Regions from separate parts of the Homo sapiens genome. Here region 2 is linked to region 1. The links come from fine-mapping of genetic effects on gene expression. Tissue or cell type: whole blood. Region 1 holds a variant in brackets; the other region holds the start of a gene. All regions are shown on one strand. Distances are from middle to middle.

Evidence for each region. PIP is the estimated chance that this variant, and not a neighbour inherited with it, causes the effect.
Region 2: MCCC1 starts here. The variant in region 1 is fine-mapped to the expression of MCCC1 in whole blood (INTERVAL, PIP 0.93).

What each region holds. Positions count from the first base shown.
Region 1 is chr3:183,129,232-183,137,335 of GRCh38, reverse strand. LAMP3 (lysosomal associated membrane protein 3) reads left to right here. Exons shown (of 6, transcript NM_014398.4): 5 at 1,449-1,619. Among named protein-coding and RNA genes, the nearest start is that of LAMP3, 29 kb to the left of the region's middle. The variant C/T (reference allele first, on the strand shown) is at 4,067.
Region 2 is chr3:183,094,933-183,103,036 of GRCh38, reverse strand. MCCC1 (methylcrotonyl-CoA carboxylase subunit 1) reads left to right here and starts at 3,541. Exons shown (of 19, transcript NM_020166.5): 1 at 3,541-3,685. The coding sequence starts at 3,597. RefSeq lists an enhancer at 3,476-3,615.

The DNA.
Region 1 (8,104 bases):
ATTATTTATTTATTTTTGAGACTGAGCATGGCTCTGTTGCCCAGGCTGGAGTGCAGTGGCACGATCTCACCTTACTGCAACCTCCACCCCTCGGATTCAAGAGATTCTCCTGCCTCAGCCTCCCTGAGTAGCTGGGATTGCATGTGCCCACCTCCATGCCTGGCTAATTTTTGTATTTTTAGTAGAGGCAGGGTTTCACCACATTGGCCAGGCTGGTCTCAAACTCCAGACCTCAAGTGATCTGCCTGCCTCAGCCTCCCAAAGTGCTGGGATTACAGGCATGAACCACCAACCACCATGCCCGGCCTACTTATTTATTTATTTATTTTAGAGACATTCTTGCTCTGTGTCCCAGGCTGGAGTGTGGTGGCATGATCATAGCTCACTGCAACCTCGAACTCCTGGGCTCAAATGATCCTCCCACCTCAGCCTCCCAAGTACTTGGGACCACAGGTGTGTGCCACCATGCCTGGCCTCAATGATTAAAATGTTTAACTTCATCTGCCTGGAAGCCTCCACTTCCTTGAACAGGGTGTACCTTTCATAAGAGAGGGCCAGTCCTTAGGCAGGTTTCTCTCCCCAGGTGGCGATCAGAAGGGAAGAGATGGGCTTCTCCCTTCTCTCTGTTTCTGTGGATGGATGCAACAACCCCTCCTAATGAGTTGTTTTTTTTTTTTTTTTTCTGAAACGGAGTTTCACTGTTGTTGCCCAGGCTGGAGTGCAATGGCACAATCTCGGCTCAACACAACCTCCACCTCCTGGGTTCAAGCGATTCTCCTGCCTCAGCCTCCCGAGTAGCTGGGATTACAGGCATGTGCCACCGCGCCCAGCTAATTTTGTATTCTTAGTAGAGATGGGGTTTCTCCATGTTGGTCAGGCTGGTCTCGAACTCCCGACCTCAGGTGATCTGACCGCCTCGGCCTCCCAAAGTGCTGGGATTACAGGCGTGAGCCACCGCGCCTGGCCCCTAATGAGTTCTTGACCCTGCTCATCTAATACATTCAGCCTGGTGATAAGCATTTGCTGACTGCATGTCCCTTCACTGATTCATTAAGGGTTCTGTGACTTTCTAAGTCTCAGAAAGCAATCTTCTTTTATCTCTAAAATTTTGGAGGCGCCTCTCTGTAGCCCCCAAGTACTGACTAGTTCCCACCCACTCTGTCCCCAATGATTTAAAGTAACCAAAGAACACATTCTCAAAAGTTCTCATTTCATTATTTGCGCATTCCAGTTTATGTGAGGTGTCTCCCTTATACCCCAAACAGAGCAGCTGAAAAAGTCTCCAAACCGCACCAGGGTGTTTTTTCATGGGGAGAAGGTGGCAGAACCCCCAGAAAGCCCCTCGGAAGGAAGGAAGGCCATTTAGCTGTGCACAGGCAGCCCGGCCACAGCTGGAGCTCAGCGGTTACATCTCAGGACTCTTATGCATCTATCTGTCACCTTTTCAGAGACAATTTACCAAGGAATCAAACATGCGGTGGTGATGTTCCAGACAGCAGTCGGGCATTCCTTCAAGTGCGTGAGTGAACAGAGCCTCCAGTTGTCAGCCCACCTGCAGGTGAAAACAACCGATGTCCAACTTCAAGCCTTTGATTTTGAAGATGACCACTTTGGAAATGGTAAGTTAAGGGTCGATCAGGTTGCAAACATACACTTTAGAGACCCCAGGGTAGATCCAAAGTGTTTTCTGTCTGCAGCTGTCGAAGGAGCAAGCATCTCATGAGCTTCCTGGGATGGTGTGATTCCACATAGCTCACAGGGCCAGGCTCCTCTGGCCACCTCAGAATCAGGCACCTGCACCCACCCAGTCACGGCTGTCCCGCAGCGGGTTGCACTCTCTTCGACTCACGCACATTCTTACTCATTTAAACACTCACGCGCTCAATCAAAACAACAGAAATACCACCTGCGACTTCCCTTTATGTCCTGTTGGGTGTAAATTCAGATATGTTTGGAGAACACTTTAAAGATCCTGAGTATCAGTAATGTCTGAAATCAAGATTTCAGAATAGTTTCTTCCCCACCTGCAGAGGGAAAAGAGCAAGATGCAGCAATTCAAAATAGAAGGAAACTCTGTTGGACCCCCTCATCTCAATTACAAGCTGTTGGAGCCCCTCGTCTCCAGTTATAAGCTGTCACACCCAACAGTGTTTCCTCATAGTCAGTTTTAGTTTCCCTCTAACTTCTGCCTTGAGTTCTGACCATCACAGGCAGAGCTTGCCTGATGACTGCCCTGGAGGAAAACAGGTCCCTGGGCAAGGGCCAAGAGCAGACCAGGGTGACTTTCCAGAAAAGCCCTCTTCTCCCTTCCAGGAACACATTGTTATAAGGATTTCTGCCTATGACCAGGAGAGTCATATGCCAGAAAAAGCCCTCTTCTCCCTTCCAGGAAAACAGTGTTACGAGGATTTCTACATATGACCAGGAGGGTCATGTACTTCAATTTCTAAAACATCCCTCTCATAATAACTAAAAAATGTGATGAGTACTTCCCAGTTATCAAAAATAGATTTAGCTAGAAGTTTAGCCGTATTTTAAATGTCTACAATATGAATCTGATTTTGCTTTGGGTTCCATCATGAAATTGCAGATGTGTGTAGCAGAAAACTTCTCCTCATGTACTCAGTGGGAAGCATTTGGCAGAGGAAGGACTGGCCATTGCTTGCCTTGGGTCCCCTGGTTTCTGTAGGCTTTGTCGGAGTCCCACAGTCATATGAGAATTTGCCAGTAGAGGTTGGCCCCATTTGTCATCCACTCTCAAAAATGCTAGTGTTGGAAAACTATTTCTTTCTTTTACAATCATTATGAAGGTTTGAAAAACTTCTGTAATCGTGTGATCTTAAAAAAAGGTACACACTTGCTCTTCTTCCCCTTCAGAACCTCTATGAAGCAGGAAGTGATCAGGTCTGGGAAACTTCTTAGTGGCAGAGGTAGGAAATAAAACGTTTCAGCAGTGCACGCCAGTGTTCACAGGGATGCATAGAAAAGCTCGCTTGTCTTTACATTTTTTTTTTTCTTAAAACCATCATTAACTGGATAGTTTTCCAAACAACAGACTTCAGAGTTCTCCTTAACTCCTCTCCCTCCAGCACCCTCTCATACAAATAGTCACAAAGCCCTAACAATTCCACTTCCAAAATGTTCCCCTTGTTCTCCCACTGTCACCGTATCAACTCAACGCCATCTTCTTAGTCTTTGCACTTCAAATTTCACTAAAGATGCTCAAATGTGAAGAGGTATGTCATTCTGTAAATAGGATTTTCTACTAGAGAGTAAGAGAAGGGGGAAAAGAGGAGCAAGTTACCATACTATATGGTGTTTAAAAGACACATGTGCAAAGGGTTATGGGAGCCCAGAGGAAGTTGTGACTGACAGCATTGGTGATGAGAGGGTGGACTAAAGAAGTCTTGAGTGATAGGCGATTTTTAAACAGGGGATCGAAGAACTGGAGAGGAATCCAGCAAGTGTCAAAGCTGAGCCTTGTAAAAGATAATGGTCATCCCAAACAGTAGACTCCTGACTCCTAAAATCTCCTCCTCCCTAAAATCCTGGAGCCTGCAAACATTGTGTTTTGTTTATTGAGTTTTAGGGTTTTTGCTGTCCTTTTCTTTTGCTGTTTATTATGCTGATTTAGGAGCCCCAAGCTATCTGAGCAGCCCCTGTAAGAAACACAGAGTTAGGACTGGGCGTGTTGGCTGACTCCTGTAATCCCAGCACTTTGGGAGGCCAAGGCAGGTGGATCACTTGAGGCCAGGACTATGAGACCAGCCTGGCCAACATAGCAAAACCCCATCTCTACTAAACATACAAAAAACTAGCCCGGCATGGTGGTACATGCCTGTAATCCCAGCTACTCGGGAGGCTGAGGGATAAAAATCACTTGAAATCAGGAGGCGGAGGTTGCAGTGAGCCGAGATTGTGTCACTGCATTCTGGCCTGGGTGACACAGTGAGACTCTGTCTCAAACTATTACTAGAGTTGGAGAATATGGCTCCGGGAATTACTCTAGTTTGAGAGTCAAGACATAACTCTGATCACAACCCTCTAGGCCAAACTAGCATTTTCT[C/T]AAAGTTGGATCTGCCTGGAAGCAGCATCAGAATTCCCCTGGCCTCAGCTCAGACCCACTGAATTATCATTTCTTGGGCATGTGTCTGGGCATCTGCAATTTAATAAGCTCCCTAACTAATTACCAGTGCTACACGTGTCAGATCCACTGTATTGACCCTTTCCCTCTCGTTTTCACCCACTGTTGTCTGAGCCCCAACAGCTCCATCTTCCCCTCTGTCTTCTTTTCTCCAAAGCTGAGGCAGATGTGGCAGTGCCACTTCCCAGCATTTGTGGCCAGTCTGTAACACTTGTTACTCTGACTTCAATTACAGCGGATGAATGCTTCAGTGACAGAAACAGGAGAGAAATCCCTGTGGCCATGGGCCTGAGTATCACAGGACTGCTTGTCATTTTGCTAACCGCATGTCTGGTGGCCAGAAAGAGGCCCAGTAGAGGATATGAACGCATGTAAAGCCCCACTTTCTTCAAAATGTGCAAAGTTAAGGTCTTGGGAATTCCAGCATCATATTCAGCCTGAAGTGAAAGGATTGACCTGTCTCGTTGCCTGTTGCACCCTCCTGAGCTGATTAGGAAACCTAACTTTCCACCAAAGGGCTACCGCAGTGCTGGGAAACAGCACCTCCCCTACTTCCTCCTGTTGCTTTGGGGAGGCCATGCCAGGTGTGCTTGATGCCCTCTGCCATACCTGAATATACCAGTGCTGGCTTCCGGAATTAGGGGCAATAGGCAGAGACATGAGTGGGGTGCTTGTGAGAAGGGAGAAAGCGAAAACCCGGAGGGAGAATTGTGGGGAAGACGTTTACAAATTGACTGATTTTTCTTATACATTTTCAAGAGTCCTGATTTTCAGTTTTTAAAAACATTACTTTAAAAAAACCAATGCATTTCAAAGTTGATTACAAAATGATTTTAAACTCCTGGATTTTACCCAAATTTTGTTTACTTAAATTATAGATGATCTTAATATGCTATTATTTTAAAAAAACATATCCTACTCTATTGTAATGTATTATCAGTTTAAAAAATTAGGAAACTGCCTATTTCACTTTTTTAATTTAAAGCACATATCAAAGATCATGGCAAAAAAGGAGGGGCTCAATAAATGTTAGCCCTTCAGTTGCTTCAATTTCATGTGTTGTCTGCCTTCTTAGCTACTTTTTTCCGGGTTTGTCGGCTTTTCTTTGATGTTATTTTATTCTTGTAAATGTGTCCATTTGGACCATTGCAGGACAGGAGGGAGACAGAGCAGGGAGACAATATGGAATGGCAAGCAGGAAGAGGTAGACCTGCCTGGAGGATCACTCACTTCCCTTTTACGCAAACATTCACCAAAAGCAGTACATTCCTGATGGGGGACGGTTGATATCTGAGGGAAAAATTCTATTAAAATATGGCTTAGGATGTTATTCATGGTTTCCTATTACATTGATGGGGGTTTTTCATTCAGAGAAAAAGGAGAGGTATGTTCTTAATTGATTCTACTGACTGGAAGTTTTCTTGTTTTTCCAAATTTTCCAGAGGTGCCATTCATTATTTTTAACATGACATTTATGAAATTTGGCAACAACTCTAAAACTACTGCCTACTTAGGAAATGTACTGACTCTCCCAGGAGGCATTTTTGCTCTCCTTGTTTTCTTAGAATTGGGGCTGTGGGGAGGGCACACCGCAGCTTCAAAAGAGCACTAAGAGCCCCTGAAGACATCCAGAGTGTCAGAAAATGTCTGTTTCCCTCTTAAAACAGATGTTGATGACAATCTGATATGAGGACCCGGGAGTTCCCCAAAGAGACTCGGGCTTAACAGCAAGAGCTTGGCTTTGGAGAGCTGTGATCTCCTTCCACCTCCTCCTTCAAACTGGCACCTGCTCCAGGCTCCCCTGTGTCCAGTGTTAAGGGCACTCGAAAGTTCTGTAGGGCAGAGGACAAGGTGTTTATTCACCAGCCACTCACTCTTCTGCAGAATGATTAATGTAAGATTTACCTTCTAGCATGTGGAAATTTCTCCCCTAGCAGATGAAACAAGAAGCAGAATTTAAAATCAAGTATAGAGGGATATGACCACTTAAATTTAATTTTCCTCCCTACCTTCTTCAGTGAGTTCTTTTGGATGATGGCCACTGCTTGGACTCCTGCTATCTATTCCCCCGACCCCAGTACTGATTATTTTTAGAATTAATTTGAATTAGCATTCTGGTAACCACAAAAAGCAAAGGTTTCATTGGAATGGCCAGTAAATAAACGCTTGGATGTGTAATTTACTCACAGTCCTGCCCACTTTCCAGGTGGAGAGCAGAGGGGGCAGTGGAGCTGGGCTCCTCACCTGCCTCCCCTCCTAACCACACACACATTCACCCTAAGAAGCCTGTGATGAGAGGGAAAAAAATTCTGTGAACTCCTCCATTACTAAACCTGGAGGAAAAAAAAAAGAGTGGGTTGCTTTATTTTCTTCGTTTTCCAACCTAGGGTAGTGAAAATGGCTCCCAGGAAGACTGGGAAGAGTAAAGGGAGGGACAGACGGAGGTGAACTGGGGAAGAAACCCCAAAGCAGACGATCGCTCCAGGCTGCAGCTAGTTTCCATGCTACAAAAAAGAGAATAGAATCCAAATATCTAACCCAAAGGGAAACATTAACTGATCTCAGATGCAATGGAAAGAAAGACCATAATTCACCCAAACGGCATCATAGGAAATGGAGTATCTCGACTGCCACGCTCAAGCATGAGCAAGATGAAAACAAACTGCATGGCCACTGTGCCAAAATACTGCAGCAAAATAAGAATAGTTTGAAATTAAATTAAGAAAAGGAGTGAGGCCAGGCACGGTGGCTCACGCCTGTAATCCCAGCACTTTGGGAGGCCGAGGCGGGCGGATCATGAGGTCAGGAGATCGAGACCATCCTAGCTAACATAGTGAAACCCCGTTTCTACTAAAAACACAAAAAATTAGCCAGGCGTGGTGGCAGGCGCATGTAGTCCCAGCTACTCGGGAGGCTGAGGCAGGAGAATGGCGTCAACCCGGGAGGCAGAGCTTGCAGTGAGCCAAGATGGCACCACTGTACTCCAGCCTGGGTGACAGAGCGAAACTCCGTCTCAAAAAAAAAAAAAAAAAAAAAAGGAGTGAGGGTGTATTAGTTTGCTAAGACTGTCTTAGTAACATACCACAGTCTGGATGCCTTAAATAACAGAAATGTATATTCTCACAGTTCTGGAGGCTAGAAATTCAAGGTCAAGGTCTCAGCAGCATTGGTTTTTCTGAAACTTCTCTCCTTGGCTGTAGATGGCCTGTGTCTTCACGTGGTCTTCCCTCTGTACCTGTCTGTATCCATATGTCCTCTTTGTGTAAGGATACCATTCATATTGGATAGAGGCCCACCCTAATGACCTCATTTTAACTTACTGACTTCTTGAAAGACCCTGTGTCCTAATACATGTTCTGTGGTCCTGGAAGTTAGGGCTTCACCATGTAAATTTGGGGGCAGGGAGGGGATACAATTTAGTCCATAACAGAAAGTTAGAAATGAAAATAGTAAAATACAAAGAAAACATAATTCAAGGAACAGAAAGAAATTCCTGACAATTGCTTGATGCTGAGAATCACTTAATGTGAATTCCAGGTAATCAGAGTTTAAAGATAAGATGTTAAAATGAAAGAGTAAGAAAACAAGATGAGTGTCAAAGCAATACACTGCATAATGTATAGAAACAGTCAGAGGCAGAATAAATAGGGAGGAAATTATATTATTTTCATAGAGAGAATGACTGAGATCATTACAGGTAATACAGATAAACCTTATGATTAAAGCATTACAGGGAAGCTACTAGATATAGAAGCTATTCAGCCCATCCAACATAAGTATAATTGGTGCCTCTGACGTATAGACCTCAAAAATAGAATGAAGATATATTTGAAGATTTAAGGAAATTTCCTTGAGATAAATAATTGAAGTTGGGATTAAAAGAGCATGTCCCAAAAAAGAATTGATACCAAAAGTTTTACACTGGGACATATTGGAAACAAGCTATAAAACTTCAAACAT
Region 2 (8,104 bases), 34 kb after region 1:
GCGGTTTCATTCTTGAAGTCAGTGAGACCAAGAACCCACCAATTCCAGACACAAAACCTCGTCTCTACTAAAAATACAAAAAATGAGCTAGGTGCAGTAGTGGATGCCTGTAATCCTAGCTATTCGGGAGGCTGAGCCATGAGAATCATTTGAACTTGGGAGGTGGAGGTTGCAGTGAGCCGAGATCATGCCATTGCACTCTAGCCTGGGCAACAGAGAGAGACTTCGTCTCAAAAAAAAAAAAAAAAAAAAAAAAAAAAAAAAAAAAAAAAAAAAAACTTTCTCTGCTCTAAGACCTCCCATAATGTCTTCTAGAACTTTTATGCTTTCATCTTTTATATTTAATCTTTCATCTACTTGGAATATTTTGGTGTTAGGTGTAAGAAGTAAGCAGGGATCCAGCTTTTTTTTCCAGAGGGCTAATCACTGGTCCCAATCACTTCTTGAATTACTGAGTTTTAAAATCTAGAATGAAGGTCAGATTTTGTCAATGACCTATTAAGCCTCTGTGAATATAAGTTTTTCTCTTTTAAACTCTTAATATTCATTTTATTAATTGATTTCTTAATAGTGAATCATCCTTATACTTCTGGAATAAACCTTGCTTATTTACAGTGTGTTATTCTTTTCACATGCTACAGGATACTTCAGTTATTTTTTTTGCTTCTTTTTTGGAGACATTCTCTCACTCTGTTACCCAGGCTGGAGTATAGTGGCATGATAAGAGCTCATTGCAGCTTCAAACTCCTGGGCTCAAGTGATCCTGCCTCAGTCTCCCGAGTAGCTGGGACTACAAGTGTGCATCATTACGCCCAGTTTTTTTAAAAAAATGTTTGTGCAGATGCGGGTCTCACTATATTGCCCAGGCTGGTCTCAAACTCCTAGGCTTAAGCAGTTTGGGAGGCCCACCTCAGCCTCCCAAAGTGATGGCGTGTCCGAAATTGGTGGGTTCTTGGTCTCACTGACTTCAAGAATGAAGCTGCACACCCTCGCGGTGAGTGTTACAGCTCTTAAGGCGGCGCGTCTGGAGTCTGTCCCTTCTGATGTTCAGATGTGTTCGGAGTTTCTTCCTTCTGGTGGGTTCGTGGTCTCACTGGCTCAGGAGTGAAGCTGCAGACCTTCGCGGTGAGTGTTACAGCTCTTAAGGCAGCGTGTCCGGAGTTGTTCGTTCCTCCCGGTGGGCTCGTGGTCTCGCTGGGCTCAGGAGTGAAGCTGCAGATCTTCGTGATAAGTGTTACAGCTCATAAAAGCAGCGTGGACCCAAAGAGTGAGCAGTAGCAAGATTTATTGCAAAGAGCGAAAGAACAAAGCTTCCACAGCGTGGAATGGGACCCGAGCAGGTTGCCAATGCTGGTTTGGGCAGCCTGCTTTTATTCTCTTATCTGGCCCCACCCACATCCTGCTGATTGGTAGAGCCCAGTGGCCTGTTTTGTCAGGGTGCTGATTGGTGCGTTTACAATCCCTGAGCTAGATACAAAGGTTCTCCACGTCCCCATCAGATTAGTTAGATACAGAGTTTCGACACACAGGTTCTCCAAGGCCCCACCAGAGCAGCTAGATACAGAGTGTCGATTGGTGCATTCACAAACCTTGAGCTAAACACAGGGTGCTGACTGGTGTATTTACAATCCCTGAGCTAGATATAAAGACTCTCCACGTCCCCACCAGACTCAGGAGCCCAGCTGGCTTCACCTAGTGGATCCCGCACCGGGGCTGCAGGTGGAGCTGCCTGCCAGTCCTGCGCCGCCGTGCGCTCGCATTCCTCAGCTCTTGGGTGGTCGATGGGACTGGGCGCCGTGGAGCAGGGGGTGGCGCTCATCGGGGAGGCTTGGGCCGCACAGGAGCCCATGGAGTGGGTGGGAGGTTCAGGCATGGCGGGCTGCAGGTCCCGAGCCCTGCCCCGTGGGAAGGCAGCCAAGGCCCGGCGAGAAATCGAGCGCAGCGCCGGTGGGCCAGCACTGCTGGGGGACTCAGTACACCCTCCGCAGCCACTGGCCCGGGTGCTAAGTCCCCCATTGCCCGGGGTCAGCAGGGCTGGCTGGCTGTTCCGAGTGCGGGGCCCACCAAGCCCACGCCCACCCGGAACTCCAGCTGGCCCGCAAGTGCCGCACACAGCCCCAGTTCCCGCTCGTGTCTCTCCCTCCACACCTCCCTGCAAGCTGAGGGAGTGGGCTCCGGCCTTGGCCAGCCCAGAAAGGGGCTCCCACAGTGCAGTGGGGGACTGAAGGGCTCCTCAAATGCCACCAAAGTGGGAGCCCAGGCAGGGGAGGTGCCGAGAGCAAGCGAGGGTTCTGAGGACTGCCAGCACGCTGTCACATCTCAATGGGGGGTTACAAGACATGAGCCACAGCACCCAGCGTAGTTAATATTTTATTTAGAATTTTTCCACTGATACTTACATGTGAAATTGGTCTGTCGTGTGTGTGTGCGTGATATCTTTGTTGATTTTGGTATCAAAGTTATGTTTACTTTTTAAAAAGAGTTTGGAAGACTTCCATCTTTTTTGTGCTCTGGGACAGAATTAATAGCATTTGAGTCAATTACTCATTTGTGTGGAATTTTCTTGCAAGACATGGAGGGCTTTTGTAACTTTTAGGGGTGAAGGTGAAGGTGAAAGTGGGCCATGGTGGTAGCAAGGATAGTTCTTTGATAAACTTCTCTATTTTTTCTGTGGTAACGGTTTGCTTAAATTTTGTCTCTTCCAGGATCTATTTTGATAAATTGTATTTTCTTGTAACATCATCCATTTCATCCAGAGTTTTAAGTTCACTTGAAGTTAAGCAAAATTAGCATCTTACAAATCTATAATTTGTTTCCTGTGTCTGTGATTTTCCCCTGCTTGTTTTTTAAATCATGTCAAATGTGCATTTTTCTCTATTTCTGATTAGATAACTATTTTATTTTTTGTGAACCTGTGGGTTTATTAGTCCTTTGACACTGGTTTCCTGAATTCATTTATTTATTCCTTTATCTTCCCTAATTTCTCCCTCCTGCTTTCCTCATGAAGCATCTACATGTAGTGTTTACAGTTTCTTTATTCTCTAGATGTTCCTCAGTTTGCTCTTTGACTTCCTCTTTTTCCCAATAGTCAGTTAGAATACCTGTTTTAAGCTCAGGTGGTTTAAAGATTTTCACTTTAGCTTATTTATTTTTTCATCCCTGAGAGCACTAGAGAATTGTGTATCCTGCTGTCCATCCGCATTTGGCTTCTTCCCCAGGGTTCTTCTCCCAGAAGGTGACGAGAGCGAAGAAACCCCACGGGATGCAGGAAGAAACAGTGACAGGCAACCAAGAGGGGGAGGATGGAGAAAACCCTTGCCTTAGTCAGAGCAGGCCCCAGGGGACGCAGAAACAAAGGCCACACCCCCACGAGCACGTGGCCAGACTGCCCAATCGTCGCTACTGAAGCCGGGCTCTGGTCTTTGATTGGTGTTCGTGGAGACGCCCTCACATTCTTGGATCAGCCCAAAGGTAGGCTCAGGCTCCGACGGTGGCCGGCGGGGGTCACGAGGCTTCGTAGTGGAGGAACGGGTTTGGCGTGTGGGACGCAGCTGCCTCTGTACTGGGGAGTCACGGAGTGGCCGGGCTCCAGGGACATGGCGGCGGCCTCTGCGGTGTCGGTGCTGCTGGTGGCGGCGGAGAGGAACCGGTGGCATCGTCTCCCGAGCCTGCTCCTGCCGCCGAGGTGGGTGGAGGGGCCATGGCTCAGTGGGCAGAGGCGGGAGCGAGGGGTGCACGGACCCGCGTGAGCGGTGGGAGGTGCGGCGGAACCCAGGGTCGGTGTGGGGAGGACGGTAGGAAAACCCCAGGCACTTTCGGAGGGGTTCTGCCGGCAGTCACGGCGTCGGGAGGAAGACATCCCCACCAGCCCTTCCCTTTCTCCCCGCTTCCGCACATCCACGCTTCAGCGCGCCTTTGGCTTCTGTTTTTCCATTTCTGAGGACTGGGCCCGCCATCCTCCAGGCTCCCCTCGCCGTCGCTGCAGCTCGTAGCCGTTTACATCGGGCTTTCGCAGCACCCCTTAGGTGGGAGCGTTGTTATAATCCGGTTCCGGGGAAGCCCAAAGGGATCAACGACTTCCTCAACGAAACACAGCTAGTAAGAAATGGGGCCGGGATGCCCTCAAAGCCATTTTTCAGTTCAGCTGTGCCCCATCAGGTGTCCAGTTCAGAGAAAGACTCCTGGAGTTCCTTCTCATTGTTAGAAGAGTGAAGTTGTCAAGAAGAGCAAATGTACCTTCCACAGAGCTGGGAAATTATTTTGTCAAAAACTCTTGTACCCAAGTTTGAACAACGCTATCAGATGACTCAGTCTAGCTCACCTGACTCCAGCTCTGTTTCAAATTTTGAGCTCTAAGCTTTGGTGGCAATAACTCTGGCAGTGAAAAAACCCTCAGGCTTGTAGATAGCTTTGCTTCTTTGTCTTCTTTTGCTTCATCGTTATCATCCTTCATCATTCTGGAAAGATTGACAGTTTAGTGTTCAAGGGCACAGACTCTGCAGTCAAGGCTGAGGTCTTAGTTAGCTACTCACTAGGTGTGTGACTTTGGGTAAGTTACTTAATATTTCTTCTTTAATTTCCTCACCTTGGAGATGATACGAGTACCTTGGGTTGTGAAAACTAAATGAATTAATTCATGGAATGAGGTTTAAGCACAATCTGGTACATAAGATCAGTCTATAAATGCAAACTCAACCATTTATATGAACGTTTGCTTGCTTTTATTTTCCAGAAATATTGTAGATGCCCTTTTTAGTTACTTAATTGTAGGAGTGCCCCAGAGAAACATAAGAAAGTTGTTGGAAGTTGGCGGGGCGCGGTAGCTCACGCCTGTAATCGCAGCACTTTGGGACGCCGAGGCGGGCAGATCACGAGGTCAGGAGATCGAGACCAACCTGGATAACACGGTGAAACCCCGTCTGTACTAAAAAATACAAAAAATTTAGCCGGGCGTGGTGACACGCGCCTATAGTCCCGCCTGTTAGTCCCAGCTACTCGGGAGGCTGAGGCAGGAGAATGGTGTGAACCCAGGAGGCGGAGCTTGCAGTGAGCTAAGATCACGCCACTGCACTCCAGCCTGGGCGACAGAGTAAGACTCCGTCTCAAATAAAAAATAAAAAAATAAAAAAAAAAGTTGGTGTAAGTAATGTTAATGTTCTTCTTGTTCTTCTGGTTTTTCTTTTCTTAGGCCTCCAGGGCTCTTCAGGATAGTACCATAGACCCATTTCCTGTCTTCCCTTTCAAAGCTTAGCTATTGTCTAAAGAACTATCCTCAAGTATGTCACTCTGGAGAGTGTTAGAGTTGTTAATGGCTTATAGAAGTAAAACTCTTTGCCAGGAGACTTGGTTCATGCCTGTATTTTCAGCAGTTTCTCAGCACTGTGGGATCCAAGGTGGGAGGATTGCTTGAGTTCAAGAGTTCAAGACCAGCCTGGGCAACACAGTGAGGCTTCATCTCTACAAAACATTAAAAAATTAGCCAGGCGTAGTGGCACACACTTGTAGTCACAGCTACTTGGGAGGATGAGGAGGGCGAGGACGGCCTGAGTCCAGGGGTTCCAGGCCGTAGTGAGCCATGATCACACCACTGTACTCCATCCTGGGTGACATCCCATCTCAAATAAAACAAAAACAAAAAAATCTTAACAGCACAGATAGTTTACATTATTTTTATGTTATGAATCTTTAGTAGCTCACAGAAAATAATCTCTGGTGGCAGAATTATAGACATGACAATAAGCTGGTATAGAGCTACCTTGAATCAGGGAAGCAGCTTCTTTTTTTTTTTTTGAGACGGAGTCTCGCTCTGTCGCCCAGGCCGGACTGCGGACTGCAGTGGCGCAATCTCGGCTCACTGCAAGCTCCGGGGAAGCAGCTTCTTAATCTTGTTTAAGCCATTGCTTTTAAGTTGCAGCTTAGATAATTGTGAAAAATGGAATAGATGATCAGAACATTGTTGGGATAGTGGATTACAGTTAAGTGGGATCTCTGTCTCTTTCTCCCTCTTTTTCCCTCTCTCCCTTCTTCTGTCTTCACTAGAAGATTGCAAAAGAAAGCTTTAGGTCAACAGTAGCCTTGAAACCGAATCAGTCTTAAGCTAGCTTTACCAACAAGCAACCATTTAATAGATACATCTGCCCAGAATAGGCCTTGAAACTTATCAGAAGCCTATCTGAAGAATGTAAAGGGAAGACGATGCTATGAGCTAGAAAATACCTCATAAAGATCAGGAAAGATGATCCCCCTCCTTCAGGATCAAGAAGGTAACATCAGCTGAAATGGAAAGGTGTGGGAAAGCAGCAGCCTCGTGAGGAAGCTAGCTCACGGAACTCTCCTGCCAAAGCTGTGGGTCTTCCCAGCAGCTCCTCATGGATGGCAGCATCTGAGTGTGCATTGTAGGGCAATGAGTGTATAGACGCATATAGATGTGTAGATGTCTACTGCATCTCCGCTCCAGTGAAATACTAGTCCTGCTCAACTACATAGTCATATACATAATATGTATATACTACTGCCTAGTTACATAGTTTCTAATGCACACGCTGTGCTTTTATCTTGTGCTTTGTGAATAATCTAAAATGGTTAGTTAGTCCTTTATAACCACATCTTCCAGGTATAGACAAAAAGATAGGTGGAATTGCTTCTGTAATTTGTTTGTTTCCCTGCATATGCTTTTTATTTATTTATTTATTTTTTTTTTTGAGATGGAGTCTCACTCTGTCACCCAGGCTGGAATGTAGTGGCACGATCTTGGCTCACTGCAACCTCCACCTCCCAAGTTCAAGTGATACTCCTGCCTCAGCCTCCCAAGTAGCTGAGATTACAGGTGCGCACCACCACACCTGGCTAATTTTTGTATTGTTAGTAGAGATGGGGTTTCACCATGTTGGCCAGGCTGGTCTCGAACTCCTGACCTCAGGTAATCCCCCCACCTCAGCCTCTCAAATTGCTAGGATTACAGGCGTGAGCCACTGCACCCAGCCCACTTATCCTCTTTAGCTGAAACTTAATAGACGTTATACTTTTTTGTTCCTAAAGTGAATCTGGCCTGTTTTCTGTCAGCTCTTGGTTACTTTATTTTATACACAGGTATCACGAAACTTAAAAATTGTTGAGACTTCTACCTCATTAAAATACCTCAAGTCATTTTGTCTCCCCATTTCTCCATTTTTTTAAATACAAGGACTTGGAATAGAATTGTATAGTACTTTTAAATCTGAGAGGTACCTTCAAGATCACCTCTTATAGTCTCATCTCGTGTGTGAGAACACTGAAGCCCAAGCTATTAAATCTTGCATCCTCAACTGGGATGATACCACCGCTAAAGGGTGGAAATTGATTCTTAGGAGAGCCAGGAAATCTTAGATTTTGTCATGGTTTACGGCTTTCCAAAGCTCAACCTTACCCCACCCTTCCTACAAGGAATAAAATCTTTTAAAAGTTTTCTCATTAGGAGAGTAATAATGAAAAAAAAGTTGGAGAAACACTGATGTAAAGTGACTCGACCCTGGGCAAGCTGGTCATTGGAGGGACTCGGATGAGAATGCAGCTTTTCTGGTCCCACAGCCAACATTCTTTCTGTTGCCCCTGTTTAACTTCCGTTTATTTCTCTGGTCTTACTTTTTAAACATGTCTCATGTTTAAACTTGATTGGTATTTTTCAAACTGTAGATTGACCAGCATATTTTAATAAAATAGGATACAACTGAAAGAACCAAAAGAGTTTTGTTCTTTTTGTTTTTGTTTTTTTTTTTGAGACGGAGTCTCGCTCTGTCACCCAGGCTGGAGTGCAGTGGCCCAGTCTCGGCTCACTGCAAGCTCTGCCTCCTGGGTTCACGCCATTCTCCTGCCTCAGCCTCCCGAGTAGCTGGGACTACAGGTGCCCGCCATGACGCCCGGCTAATTTTTTGTGTTTTCAGTAGAGACAGGGTTTCACCGTGTTAGCCAGGATGGCCTCAATCTCCTGACCTCATGATCTGCTTGCCTCGGCTTCCCAAAGTGCTGGGATTACAGGTGTGAGCCACCGTGCCTGGCCAGGGCAGAATGAGTCATTTTTAACAAAACATCTGTTTTCATTAAGTGTGTGTCCTGGGTAGTTTGTATT